Homo sapiens: one gene and its partner. The gene in region 1 interacts genetically with each later gene. Each region holds a gene or a part of one and is shown in the gene's direction. Other genes may lie near its edges.

Evidence for each region.
Region 2: of HTT (region 1) and RNF4, changing one suppresses a phenotype caused by changing the other (phenotypic suppression), as found in Homo sapiens cells (one study listed by BioGRID).

Annotation. Positions count from the first base shown.
Region 1 is NC_000004.12:3,238,681-3,244,457, forward strand, and holds the end of HTT (huntingtin), read left to right. Parts: intron 1-137; coding exon 138-298; intron 299-1,165; coding exon 1,166-1,379; 3' UTR 1,380-5,277; downstream 5,278-5,777.
Region 2 is NC_000004.12:2,492,495-2,500,492, forward strand, and holds part of RNF4 (E3 ubiquitin-protein ligase RNF4), read left to right. Parts: intron 1-4,512; coding exon 4,513-4,627; intron 4,628-7,998. UniProt on the Homo sapiens protein: E3 ubiquitin-protein ligase which binds polysumoylated chains covalently attached to proteins and mediates 'Lys-6'-, 'Lys-11'-, 'Lys-48'- and 'Lys-63'-linked polyubiquitination of those substrates and their subsequent targeting to the proteasome for degradation.

The DNA of each region.
Region 1 (5,777 bases):
ATTCGCCAGCAGAGCCCAGCTCCTCCGCTTTAAAGCAGCAATGCCTCTGGCCCCCACCCCACCCCCGCCACCCAGGCGCAGCAGGTGCTTCCCGTCCCCCCAGCCCTGACACTCAGGCACCTGCTTGCTCCTTGCAGGTGTTTCAGACTCTGCACAGCACCGGGCAGTCGTCCATGGTCCGGGACTGGGTCATGCTGTCCCTCTCCAACTTCACGCAGAGGGCCCCGGTCGCCATGGCCACGTGGAGCCTCTCCTGCTTCTTTGTCAGCGCGTCCACCAGCCCGTGGGTCGCGGCGATGTATCCTCTCTGGGTCCCTGGTGCTGGCCCCGTTTCCCTTGTCAACACCGAGGCTCATGTTTCATGATAAGGTTTTGAAACCTAACCTTTGCAAAAACCCCACAGATGCCAGGGTGACAGGCCCTCAGCCCCAGGGAAGTAAAATGCTGACAGGGGTACAGAAAGGAGCACGTCCAGACATTTGCTGACCAGGGCCTCTCAGAGGGGCCGGTGTATGGCAGGAGGGTCGCAGCTGAGGGGCCTTTCTGTGGAGGGCCTGGGTGAGGGGAGCGAGGGTGGGCGGTGGTCTCTGCAGACGTCCCGCCCACTCGCGGGCTCTGTGTGGCTGGGCTTCTCCTGACACTGCTTCTCATTAGCTTTGGTCATTGTGCCTCGATCGCCCTCTCGGGGAAAGGCTTAAGTAAAGATCCAGTTCCCACCCCCAGATGCTGGCTGCCAGGAGTTTCCCTTTCCACAGCCCTTCCCCAAGACAGACCACAAGAGCCTCCAAGCAGCACAGTTGTCCTGGTGCTGACAGCACAGCCTTGCCCGGCGTGCCTGGCACGGCTCTGCCCTCACTGCATTGGAGCAGGGCTAGTGGAGGCCAGCGGAAGCACCGGCCACCAGCGCTGCACAGGAGCCAGGCCAGGTGAGTGCTGCCGAGTGGGTGCCCTGCCTGCAGGGCATCCAGCCAGCCAAGGGTTGCAGGAATGGAGGTGGAGGCGCTGATGCAGCTGGAGGCATCCAGGTGGCCCTTCCGGGGCTCTGCTCGCTCTCCAGGCTCCCTGGACCCCTTTGTAGACTGTTTCAGGAGAGGAACTCCCAGGTGAGGACAGGGAGGCAGCATTCCCCTCATTTGCCGGCCTTTTTCCTTAACTCCTGCACCAGCCTCCCACATGTCATCAGCAGGATGGGCAAGCTGGAGCAGGTGGACGTGAACCTTTTCTGCCTGGTCGCCACAGACTTCTACAGACACCAGATAGAGGAGGAGCTCGACCGCAGGGCCTTCCAGTCTGTGCTTGAGGTGGTTGCAGCCCCAGGAAGCCCATATCACCGGCTGCTGACTTGTTTACGAAATGTCCACAAGGTCACCACCTGCTGAGCGCCATGGTGGGAGAGACTGTGAGGCGGCAGCTGGGGCCGGAGCCTTTGGAAGTCTGCGCCCTTGTGCCCTGCCTCCACCGAGCCAGCTTGGTCCCTATGGGCTTCCGCACATGCCGCGGGCGGCCAGGCAACGTGCGTGTCTCTGCCATGTGGCAGAAGTGCTCTTTGTGGCAGTGGCCAGGCAGGGAGTGTCTGCAGTCCTGGTGGGGCTGAGCCTGAGGCCTTCCAGAAAGCAGGAGCAGCTGTGCTGCACCCCATGTGGGTGACCAGGTCCTTTCTCCTGATAGTCACCTGCTGGTTGTTGCCAGGTTGCAGCTGCTCTTGCATCTGGGCCAGAAGTCCTCCCTCCTGCAGGCTGGCTGTTGGCCCCTCTGCTGTCCTGCAGTAGAAGGTGCCGTGAGCAGGCTTTGGGAACACTGGCCTGGGTCTCCCTGGTGGGGTGTGCATGCCACGCCCCGTGTCTGGATGCACAGATGCCATGGCCTGTGCTGGGCCAGTGGCTGGGGGTGCTAGACACCCGGCACCATTCTCCCTTCTCTCTTTTCTTCTCAGGATTTAAAATTTAATTATATCAGTAAAGAGATTAATTTTAACGTAACTCTTTCTATGCCCGTGTAAAGTATGTGAATCGCAAGGCCTGTGCTGCATGCGACAGCGTCCGGGGTGGTGGACAGGGCCCCCGGCCACGCTCCCTCTCCTGTAGCCACTGGCATAGCCCTCCTGAGCACCCGCTGACATTTCCGTTGTACATGTTCCTGTTTATGCATTCACAAGGTGACTGGGATGTAGAGAGGCGTTAGTGGGCAGGTGGCCACAGCAGGACTGAGGACAGGCCCCCATTATCCTAGGGGTGCGCTCACCTGCAGCCCCTCCTCCTCGGGCACAGACGACTGTCGTTCTCCACCCACCAGTCAGGGACAGCAGCCTCCCTGTCACTCAGCTGAGAAGGCCAGCCCTCCCTGGCTGTGAGCAGCCTCCACTGTGTCCAGAGACATGGGCCTCCCACTCCTGTTCCTTGCTAGCCCTGGGGTGGCGTCTGCCTAGGAGCTGGCTGGCAGGTGTTGGGACCTGCTGCTCCATGGATGCATGCCCTAAGAGTGTCACTGAGCTGTGTTTTGTCTGAGCCTCTCTCGGTCAACAGCAAAGCTTGGTGTCTTGGCACTGTTAGTGACAGAGCCCAGCATCCCTTCTGCCCCCGTTCCAGCTGACATCTTGCACGGTGACCCCTTTTAGTCAGGAGAGTGCAGATCTGTGCTCATCGGAGACTGCCCCACGGCCCTGTCAGAGCCGCCACTCCTATCCCCAGGCCAGGTCCCTGGACCAGCCTCCTGTTTGCAGGCCCAGAGGAGCCAAGTCATTAAAATGGAAGTGGATTCTGGATGGCCGGGCTGCTGCTGATGTAGGAGCTGGATTTGGGAGCTCTGCTTGCCGACTGGCTGTGAGACGAGGCAGGGGCTCTGCTTCCTCAGCCCTAGAGGCGAGCCAGGCAAGGTTGGCGACTGTCATGTGGCTTGGTTTGGTCATGCCCGTCGATGTTTTGGGTATTGAATGTGGTAAGTGGAGGAAATGTTGGAACTCTGTGCAGGTGCTGCCTTGAGACCCCCAAGCTTCCACCTGTCCCTCTCCTATGTGGCAGCTGGGGAGCAGCTGAGATGTGGACTTGTATGCTGCCCACATACGTGAGGGGGAGCTGAAAGGGAGCCCCTCCTCTGAGCAGCCTCTGCCAGGCCTGTATGAGGCTTTTCCCACCAGCTCCCAACAGAGGCCTCCCCCAGCCAGGACCACCTCGTCCTCGTGGCGGGGCAGCAGGAGCGGTAGAAAGGGGTCCGATGTTTGAGGAGGCCCTTAAGGGAAGCTACTGAATTATAACACGTAAGAAAATCACCATTCCGTATTGGTTGGGGGCTCCTGTTTCTCATCCTAGCTTTTTCCTGGAAAGCCCGCTAGAAGGTTTGGGAACGAGGGGAAAGTTCTCAGAACTGTTGGCTGCTCCCCACCCGCCTCCCGCCTCCCCCGCAGGTTATGTCAGCAGCTCTGAGACAGCAGTATCACAGGCCAGATGTTGTTCCTGGCTAGATGTTTACATTTGTAAGAAATAACACTGTGAATGTAAAACAGAGCCATTCCCTTGGAATGCATATCGCTGGGCTCAACATAGAGTTTGTCTTCCTCTTGTTTACGACGTGATCTAAACCAGTCCTTAGCAAGGGGCTCAGAACACCCCGCTCTGGCAGTAGGTGTCCCCCACCCCCAAAGACCTGCCTGTGTGCTCCGGAGATGAATATGAGCTCATTAGTAAAAATGACTTCACCCACGCATATACATAAAGTATCCATGCATGTGCATATAGACACATCTATAATTTTACACACACACCTCTCAAGACGGAGATGCATGGCCTCTAAGAGTGCCCGTGTCGGTTCTTCCTGGAAGTTGACTTTCCTTAGACCCGCCAGGTCAAGTTAGCCGCGTGACGGACATCCAGGCGTGGGACGTGGTCAGGGCAGGGCTCATTCATTGCCCACTAGGATCCCACTGGCGAAGATGGTCTCCATATCAGCTCTCTGCAGAAGGGAGGAAGACTTTATCATGTTCCTAAAAATCTGTGGCAAGCACCCATCGTATTATCCAAATTTTGTTGCAAATGTGATTAATTTGGTTGTCAAGTTTTGGGGGTGGGCTGTGGGGAGATTGCTTTTGTTTTCCTGCTGGTAATATCGGGAAAGATTTTAATGAAACCAGGGTAGAATTGTTTGGCAATGCACTGAAGCGTGTTTCTTTCCCAAAATGTGCCTCCCTTCCGCTGCGGGCCCAGCTGAGTCTATGTAGGTGATGTTTCCAGCTGCCAAGTGCTCTTTGTTACTGTCCACCCTCATTTCTGCCAGCGCATGTGTCCTTTCAAGGGGAAAATGTGAAGCTGAACCCCCTCCAGACACCCAGAATGTAGCATCTGAGAAGGCCCTGTGCCCTAAAGGACACCCCTCGCCCCCATCTTCATGGAGGGGGTCATTTCAGAGCCCTCGGAGCCAATGAACAGCTCCTCCTCTTGGAGCTGAGATGAGCCCCACGTGGAGCTCGGGACGGATAGTAGACAGCAATAACTCGGTGTGTGGCCGCCTGGCAGGTGGAACTTCCTCCCGTTGCGGGGTGGAGTGAGGTTAGTTCTGTGTGTCTGGTGGGTGGAGTCAGGCTTCTCTTGCTACCTGTGAGCATCCTTCCCAGCAGACATCCTCATCGGGCTTTGTCCCTCCCCCGCTTCCTCCCTCTGCGGGGAGGACCCGGGACCACAGCTGCTGGCCAGGGTAGACTTGGAGCTGTCCTCCAGAGGGGTCACGTGTAGGAGTGAGAAGAAGGAAGATCTTGAGAGCTGCTGAGGGACCTTGGAGAGCTCAGGATGGCTCAGACGAGGACACTCGCTTGCCGGGCCTGGGCCTCCTGGGAAGGAGGGAGCTGCTCAGAATGCCGCATGACAACTGAAGGCAACCTGGAAGGTTCAGGGGCCGCTCTTCCCCCATGTGCCTGTCACGCTCTGGTGCAGTCAAAGGAACGCCTTCCCCTCAGTTGTTTCTAAGAGCAGAGTCTCCCGCTGCAATCTGGGTGGTAACTGCCAGCCTTGGAGGATCGTGGCCAACGTGGACCTGCCTACGGAGGGTGGGCTCTGACCCAAGTGGGGCCTCCTTGTCCAGGTCTCACTGCTTTGCACCGTGGTCAGAGGGACTGTCAGCTGAGCTTGAGCTCCCCTGGAGCCAGCAGGGCTGTGATGGGCGAGTCCCGGAGCCCCACCCAGACCTGAATGCTTCTGAGAGCAAAGGGAAGGACTGACGAGAGATGTATATTTAATTTTTTAACTGCTGCAAACATTGTACATCCAAATTAAAGGAAAAAAATGGAAACCATCAGTTGTTGCTGTGTGAGGCTTGCTTTGCTTCATGAGAACCTAGACCTTGCTGAGCTGGAGTCTTAGGAAGCAGTCTCCTAAGTGCTTCTCCAGCAGGGGCAGAAACTGTCCCACCAGCTAACATCTGGCATTATGGAGGGTCCCCCAGGCAGCTGCCAGCAGGGACAGGCCCCGTGTTTTCTGTAGCCAGGGATGAGGAAGTGGCCCCAGGGCATGGGCCTGGCTGGGTGCTTCTGCAAGGGCCTTCCCAAACCACAGTACAGGTGGTCTTCCTGCCCTGCAGATGGGAGCTGTGGGAGCTGCTGGAGCTGCTGGAGCCTTCATGGTCAAGTGACATCATAAGCTTATATGACATACACAAGCCTCAGGACTTGGCCCATGGCACTGAAGCAGGTCATCAGGCCCAGCACAGAGACTAGAGCTGTGTTCTCACAGGGCCCACCACCCTTCCACCTCCTTGGCCATTGACACCTGCGTCCCTGGCCCAGCTGCTCCCAG
Region 2 (7,998 bases), 750 kb from region 1:
AAACATCTGTTGTCTGAGATCCTGAATTCCTTGTCAGACAGACCAGATGTGAAATAGCCTGCTGATTTCTTCCAGTGCTCCAGAAGTACTGTGAATGGTATGGGAAGATGGATGGTGGGGACAGGTGAGACTGAACAAACAGCTGTCAGAGGGAACAGTGATGGAAATGCTGGTCACACCCTCTGAGCCTTTTGGGTCCTCACCCTCTTCTGTTACTTCCTGGCCGCCATTGTGCTCCAGGGCCCACTTTTGATGGTGATACACAAAAAAGCCCACTTCTTTGACCTCCCACCTTGGTGCTTCACCTGCAGGTTACCATGTAGCTCACCTATGGGGAAATAGGTGCTTTAAGCCTTAACCCATCTCTGCTTAGGCCAGATCAGAACAGGCAAAACAATGTAGCCTTTTGTGCATGTGTGTGAAGAAATTGGTTAAAATTCCTGAAAGTTACGGTGTGGTTATAGCTTATGTGGTTGTGATAGGATGGTCAGTTTTCACCAAAAGCTATGGACCTCTGAGGGCCCTGCTAGTGAAAAGGAAGAGAATTATGACCAGAATTATGGGAGGGCCAGAGTGGGGAGCTCTGCAGATATTCCTGGATTGATTGAGCCTGTCTTGAGTGGTGCAGGGAAGCTACTTGGGAGGAGGAGGCTCAGAGACAGCAGAGTGGGAGGGTAAAGGATGTCCTCAGGAAGGAGGTGACATTTGAGTGGGTTCTGGAAAGCTGTGCAAGAATTGGCCAAGTAAAGAAAGGGAGGGACAGGCACTCCAGGCAGGGAAGAAGCTCTGGTTAAAGGCATGGAGGGGTCGATAGAGCAGGCAGAAAAGAGGATTCCTGAGGTTAGGGAGGGGTGGGGACATTCCTGTAATTATCCGTGAGGGGAGATTTTGGGTCCAGGACCCATGGCTGCTTTCTTGGCTCCCTCAGTGGGGCCCAGAAACCACACAGGTAGCTGTGGGACATGGAGGTCTGCTTAGCAGTGCCTAGTAAGAAAGACTTGGTCTGCTACAGGCTGGGCATGGTGGATCACAAGGTCAGGAGTTCGAGACCAGCCTGGCCAACATGGTGAAACCCCGTTTCCACTAAAAATACAAAAAAATTAGCTAAGCACAGTGGCGGGTGCCTGTAATCCCAGCTACTCGGGAGGCTGAGGCAGGAGAATCGCTTGAACCTGGGAGGCAGAAGTTGTGGTGAGCCGAGATCATTCCACTGCACTCCTGCCTGAGCAACAGAGTGAGACTCCGTCTTAAAAAAAAAAAAAAAAAAAAAAGACTTGGCTACAAGGGAAGGAGCCTATACGAGGACAAAGGACATTGTCAAAGAGAATGGGGTAAATATTTTCATTTATTTATTATTATTATTTTGAGACAGAGTCTTGCTCTGTCGCCCAGGCTGGAGTGCAGTGGATGCAATATTGGCTCACTGCAACCTCTGCTGCCCGGGTTCAAGCGATTCTCCTGCCTCAGCCTCCCGAGTAGCTGGGACTACAGGTGCATGCCACCACGCCCAGCTACTTTTTGTGTTATTAGTAGAGACGGGGTTTCAGCATCTTGGCCAGGCTGGTCTTGAACTCCTGACCTCGTGATCCACGAGAATGGGGTAAATATTAAAGAGTCCTAAGTGTTTGAAATGCTTGTTTTCTGGTGCTGTAAAGAAATAGCATTTGAACGTAAATTCAATTTTTTTTAGCAAGGCCATATTTATACTTTCTGCAGAAAGGGTACACTCACCAGTTGTTTTGCCATGAGAATACATTGAATAAAGGAGACAGGGTTATTTATAACTTGATGTGTTTACTCTGCTGCTGTATCCAGTTTTTATTGGCTGGAACAGGACCTCACATTCTGTATTTGTCCCAATTGGCTAGCAACTTAGAACTTTTTTTTTTTTTTTTTTTTGGAGACAGAGTCTCACTCTGTCGCCCAGGCTGGAGTGCAGTGGCATGATCTCGGGGTCACTGCAAGCTCCACCTCCCGGGTTCACACCATTCTCCTGCCGCAGCCTCCCAAGTAGCTGGGACTACAGGTGCCCGCCACCACGCCTGGCTAATTTTTTTTGTATTTTTTAGTAGAGATGGGGTTTCTACGTGTTAGCCAGGATGGTCTCGATCTTCTGACCTTGTGATCCGCCCGCCTCAGCCTCCCAAAGTGCTGGGATTACAGGCATGCGCCACCACACCTGGCCAGAACTTTTGAAAAGAGGCAAAGGCAGAGGAGAATAAAGGAAGGAGGAAGTAACTTGTGGAATGCTGAAAAAGGTAAAAATAACCTTTAAATAAGGAAGAGGAACAGGCTATGATCTAATGCTTGCTTGGACTAATATAAGCATGCCAAGGTAAATATTTAGGCTAAATTGTGGGAGCTAAGAATATAAAGTACATTGATTTCTTTATTATGGCTAGCAGATATTTAAGAATGTTAGTACAGGTCTTTGAATAAATTTTGCTTTTAAGAGAAGTTACTATTTATTTCTAATTAGATGGGGAGGAAAGTCTTTGAAGAGGAACCTCTACTTTACTTTTTACATAAGCAACCTGGTGGCTGCTGGGGAAACCCTTAAAACACTGGGCAGTAGAACTCCACTGAGGTTAGTGTCAGCTCCCTTGAGGCCAAGAGCAGCTGCTCACTTGGGAGTTTTGGCTGCTGTCGCTTGGCCTCTGGGCCCTCCTGGGGCTGGTTCTGTGCTCCTTAGTCCGTGGGAAGTTACTAGACCCAGCTTCATTTCCAAAACATCTCAAGCTGCCATTTGATAAGAGTAGCATTGGAACACAGAATCAGGCTTATCCCTGTTGCCTAGCGAGGGCTTGGCTGGATGGTGGGTGTTCCTGGATCTTGTATGAATCTCTCCTGCAATATCTGGTCCTTTCAGAGTTTCCTGGGACAGATTGACCCTAGTAAGGCTAAGGAATTGGGATAGTAGTAGCATCTTCCGTCTCTGCGCAGTACTTTACATACATGATCTCATTTAGACCTTATAACAGCTCTGCAAGGCTGGTACTGGTGAGGAACTTGAGACTTAGTAGTGCAGTACTTGTCCCAGGTTGTCCAGTGCAAAGGATAGCAGGACAGGGCACAGGGAGAAGAGCACGGAAACACCAGTGGGAATACAAGGTGACAGGCTCTGTTGGGAAGCTCTTTTTTTTTTGGGGGGGGGTGAGATGGAGATTTACTCTTGTTGCCCAGGCTGGAGTGCAATGGCACAATCTCGGCTCACCGCATCCTCCACCTCCCAGGTTCAAGTGATTCTCCTGCCTCAGCCTCCCGAGTAGCTGGGATTACAGGCATGTGCCACCACGCCCAGCTAATTTTGTATTTTTAGTAGAGACGGGTTTCACCGTGTTGCCCAGGCTGATCTTGAACTCCTGACCTCTGGTGATCCGCCTGCCTCTGCCTCCCAAAGTGCTGGGATTACAGGCCTGAGCCACTGCGCCTGGCCAGCTCTGTCTCTTGATTAAGGTGGAGGATATTCTCAGCTTGTCTTTTGGGACCAGGCAGACCAGAAATGCTGGAGCATATTGGCAAACCAGCAGCCTAAGGATTTGGAAGAAAGGCTGGTCAGAGTGTCAGTTGCTTATCAACCAGCTGAGAGCCTGAACTTTCCGGAAGACATGGCTCTTGGGTAGCCACTGGGAACAGGCTTAAAACAGCTTTGGTTCTTTGAGTTCTTTGTGGGGAGTGATTGTCTGGTGTGAATCACAGTTGATAGTGCCCTGAAAGGTTCAAGGCCACATTTCCCAGGGGAAGATAAGCTTTCCACAATGTATAGAAACTCAGAAAACTCCAAGTTCTTTATGCTAAGAAACAAAAAGGGCTCAGAAAGGCTGAACACAAAGTCAAGGAAGAGAAATTGATAACTTTTGGTTAAAGGGAAGAGTTTCCAGCCTTTTGGCCAGGGCATCCACTACCAAGTCCAAATCCTGACTTGGCCTCAAGCTTTTGTAAAGGGATGCATCGTGTCCCTTTTGACCTGCTGATAGTTTTTTTGAGATGGAGTCTCACACTGTCACCCGGGCTAGAGTACAGTGACGCGATCTCGCCTCACTGCAACCTCTGCCTCCCAGGTTCAAGTGATTCTCCTGCCTCAGCCTCTGGAGTAGCTGGGATTACAGGTGCCTGCCACCACGCCCAGCTAACTTTTGTATTTTCAGTAGTGATGAGGCTTCACCATGTTGGCCAGGCTGACCTTGAACTCCTCACCTCATGATTCGCCCACCTCAGCCTCCGAAAGTGCTGGGATTACAGGTGTGAGCCACCATGCCCAGCCGACCTGCTGATAGTTTGATAAAACAGAAGTTTTACTTTCTGGAATTTCTACTCATTTTATGTTTTGGATGGTTTCTCTCTCCGTAAGCATTCAGTATTCTTGAATCTCAAGTTTTGAAAGGAGCCCTAACTTCAAGTCTACTCGCTGGCTTCTTAATGAAGTGAACCATTTCTATTGCCCATTTAGTTCTTCCTGAAACCCTGACATTCTGGTGTTCATGTGACTCTTCTTTCCCCCTTGCTACTCAGAGAAAGCGTCGTGGTGGAGCAATAAATTCTAGACAAGCTCAGAAGCGAACTCGGGAAGCAACCTCCACCCCCGAGATCTCCTTGGAAGCAGAACCCATAGAACTCGTGGAAACTGGTAAGATTGCCAGGGACACTACAACTGTGGGGTGTTAAAGTGGAGAGAGAACACTGTACCAGGGTGAGCTAGTAGAAGGTGCTTTCAGTGTCTTTAGAAGGCCTATGCAGTCTCACACTCACCATGTACAACTCAAAGCTTCACAGATTCTGAAATAGCTTCTCAACTGGGCTAACTGTTCAACTCTGGTAATGTGCAGCAGTGGGGTAGGATCCATTTAAAAAAAAATCTAGCGCAAATGAGATAGCCCACCTTTTCTATCTGAAACTGCATCCCCAATTGCTGGACCTTGTAAAGTACTTCGCTTTCCTCTTCTGTTTTTCATTAGGACATGAAATCACCCAAGAAGGCAAACTTGTCCACAGAGCTCCCTGTGTTGGAGCTTGGTATAGGCAGAGGCCAGATTGGATTTCCCCTTCTGCCTGCTCAAGAAGTGGTTGATGGCTGGCCTAAGTCCCTTTGCTCTGCATATATTGTTTTTATAACTAGGATACCTGCAAACTGGCATTTTATTTTTACTTATTTATTTTTGAGATAGAGTCTTGCTCTGTCGCCCAAGCTAGAGTGTAGTGGTGCAGTCTCGGCTCACTGCAAGCTCCACATCCTGGGTTCACGCCATTCTCCTGCCTCAGCCTCCCAAGTAGCTGGGACTATAGGCACCCGCCACCACACCCGGCTAATTTTTTGTATTTTTAATAGAGACAGGGTTTCACCATGTTAGCCAGGATGGTCTCGATCTCCTGACCTTGTGATCCACCCGTCTCGGCCTCCCAAAGTGCTGGTATTACAGGCGTGAGCCACTGCACCCGGCCATGCAAACTCGCGTTTTAAACAGAAGAAACTTAGTGCAAGATAAATTTCATGGGCCCCCCAGGAGAAATGAAGTTCTCTATATGGTCTCTGAGTTTCACTTCTACAAATGAGTTCTTGAAAGCCTTGACTTGAGGCTAGGATCCTGGCTCTAGACCAAAAAGGAACGAACTGCTTTCCGTCATGGCACTTGTCATCCTCTAGGCAGTCTTACCCCTGTGTGTACTTAGGGCTGCCCATTAGAGCACTGTTTTGTTTTTGTTTCTGTTTGAGGCAGAGTTTCGTTCTGTCAGCCAGGTTGGAGTGCAATCGCGTGATCTCGGCTCACTGCAACCTCTGCCTCCCAGGTTTAAGCAAGTCTCCTGCCTCAGCTTCCCAAGTAGCTGGGATCATAGGCGCCCACCACCACACCCGGCTAAATTTTTTTTGTATTTTTAGTAGAGACGGGGTTTCACCATGTCAGTCAGGCTGATCTCGAACTCCTGACCTCAGATTATCCACCTGCCTTGGCCTCCCAAAGTGCTGGGATTACAGGCCTGAGCCACCCGCCTGGCCTAGAGCACTGTTTTTGTAAGAGCCCAGAATTGTGTTCACCAGAAAGAGAATGGTTCAATAAATTGTTGTATATCAGTATATGGACTGTTGGACAGCCCTTCTTTTTAATAAAGAATGCAATAATTTTATATAAATTATATTGTATATGTAAGATTATCACGGTTTTTATTCTTGTGAAACTTTATGATACAAGAAAATAAAACAGGCCAGCCAGATTGCTTGAGCCCAGGAGTACCAGACCAGCCTGGACAACATAGTGAGACCCTGTCTCTATAAATAAAAAAATTAGCCAAGTGTGGGAGGCTGAGGTAGGAGGATCACTTGAGCCTGGAACATTGAGGCTGCAGTGAGCCGTGATCGTGCCACTGCACTCTAGCCTGGGCAACAGCAAGACCCCACCTAAAAAATAAATAAAAGAAGTTACGTTGGGTTGGGCGCCATGGCTGGCTCCTATAATCCCAGCACTTTGGGAGGCCGAGGCGTGCAGATCACCTGAGGTCAGGAGTTCAAGACCAGCCTGGCCAACATGGCGAAACCCCATCTCTACTAAAAATGCAAAAATTAGACGGGCGTGGTGGCGGGCGCCTGTAATCCCAGCTACTTGGGAGGTTGATGCAGGAGAATCACTTGCACCTGGGAGGCAGAGGTTGCAGTGAGCCGAGATCGTGCCACTGCACTCCTGCCTGGACGACAGAGCGAGACTCTGTCTCAAAAAAAAAAAGTTAAATGCATTACAAGACACTTTCCCCAAATATTAGACCAATACTGTTTCTTAAAAAACTTCATTTAGTGTTTTGTTGTTGTTGTTGTTTGTTTGTTTTTGAGATGGAGTTTTGCTCTTGTTGCCCAGGCTGGGGTGCAGTGGCGTGATCTTTGCATCCCGGGGTTCAAGCAATTCTCCTGCCTCAGCCTCCCGAGTAGCTGGGATTACAGGCATGTGCCACCACACCTCGCTAATTTTGTATTTTTAGTAGAAACGGAGTTTCTCCATGTTGGTCAGGCTGGTCTCGAACTCTCAACCTCAGGTGATCCGCCCACCTCAGCCTCCCAAAGTGCTGGGATTACAGGTGTGAACCACTGTGCCTGGCCCATTCCGTGCTTTTTAATATTAATATTAATAGTAATCAGAAATAAAAATGGTTGTGCGTCATTTTTTACTTTATATAAATGGAAGTTGTACGTTAACTGTTTGGTCCATGTCCTTCTCACCTTTATCCTGTGCACATGTAGACATCACAGTATACCCTAAGGGCTGAAAGGCAAGCTTCACAACAGATGCAACCCATTTTGTATGTTGAGGTTCTAGCTATCAGTATATATCACTGTTATTCTCCATCCAACTAGGGAGACAAACTTGAGAGATAAATGGAAATTAAAAGTTTGTCCTTGGCCGGGCACGGTGGCTCACGCCTGTAATCCCAACACTTTGGAAGACTGAAGTGGGTGGATCACAAGGTCAGGAGTTCAAGACCAGCCTGGCCAAGATGGTGAAACCCCATCTCTACTAAAAATACAAACAAAATTAGCCAGGCATGCTGCCAGGCGCCTGTAATCCCAACTACTCGGGAGGCTGAGACAGAGAATTGCTTGAACCCAGGAGGCGGAGGTTGCAGTGAGCCAAGATCGCACCACTGCACTCCAGCCTTGGCGACAGAGCGAGACTCTGTCTCAAAAAAAAAAAAAAAAAAAAAGAATTTGCCCTAGATTAACCGATGAAGTTACTAAGCTAAGCCTGACTTTTGGTCCTTGGGCCAAGTGAGAGTGGTCAGCTTCACCTGCTGGGAGGAGCAGAGGTTTCAGGCTAGTCCATCCCAAAGAGAAAGGCCTGGGGCTGGGCATGCATGGTGCGTTCTCCCAGATGGGGCACAGAGGCATAGCCGTGTGGAAGTGGGATGCCGTGGAATAGAGGTATGCACATGCGCACACATACATAACCCCCCAGGTACATTTGTAAAAACCATACCTCCCCACTCAGAGCAGAATTCTGGAAGGGTGGTTACTGGCTT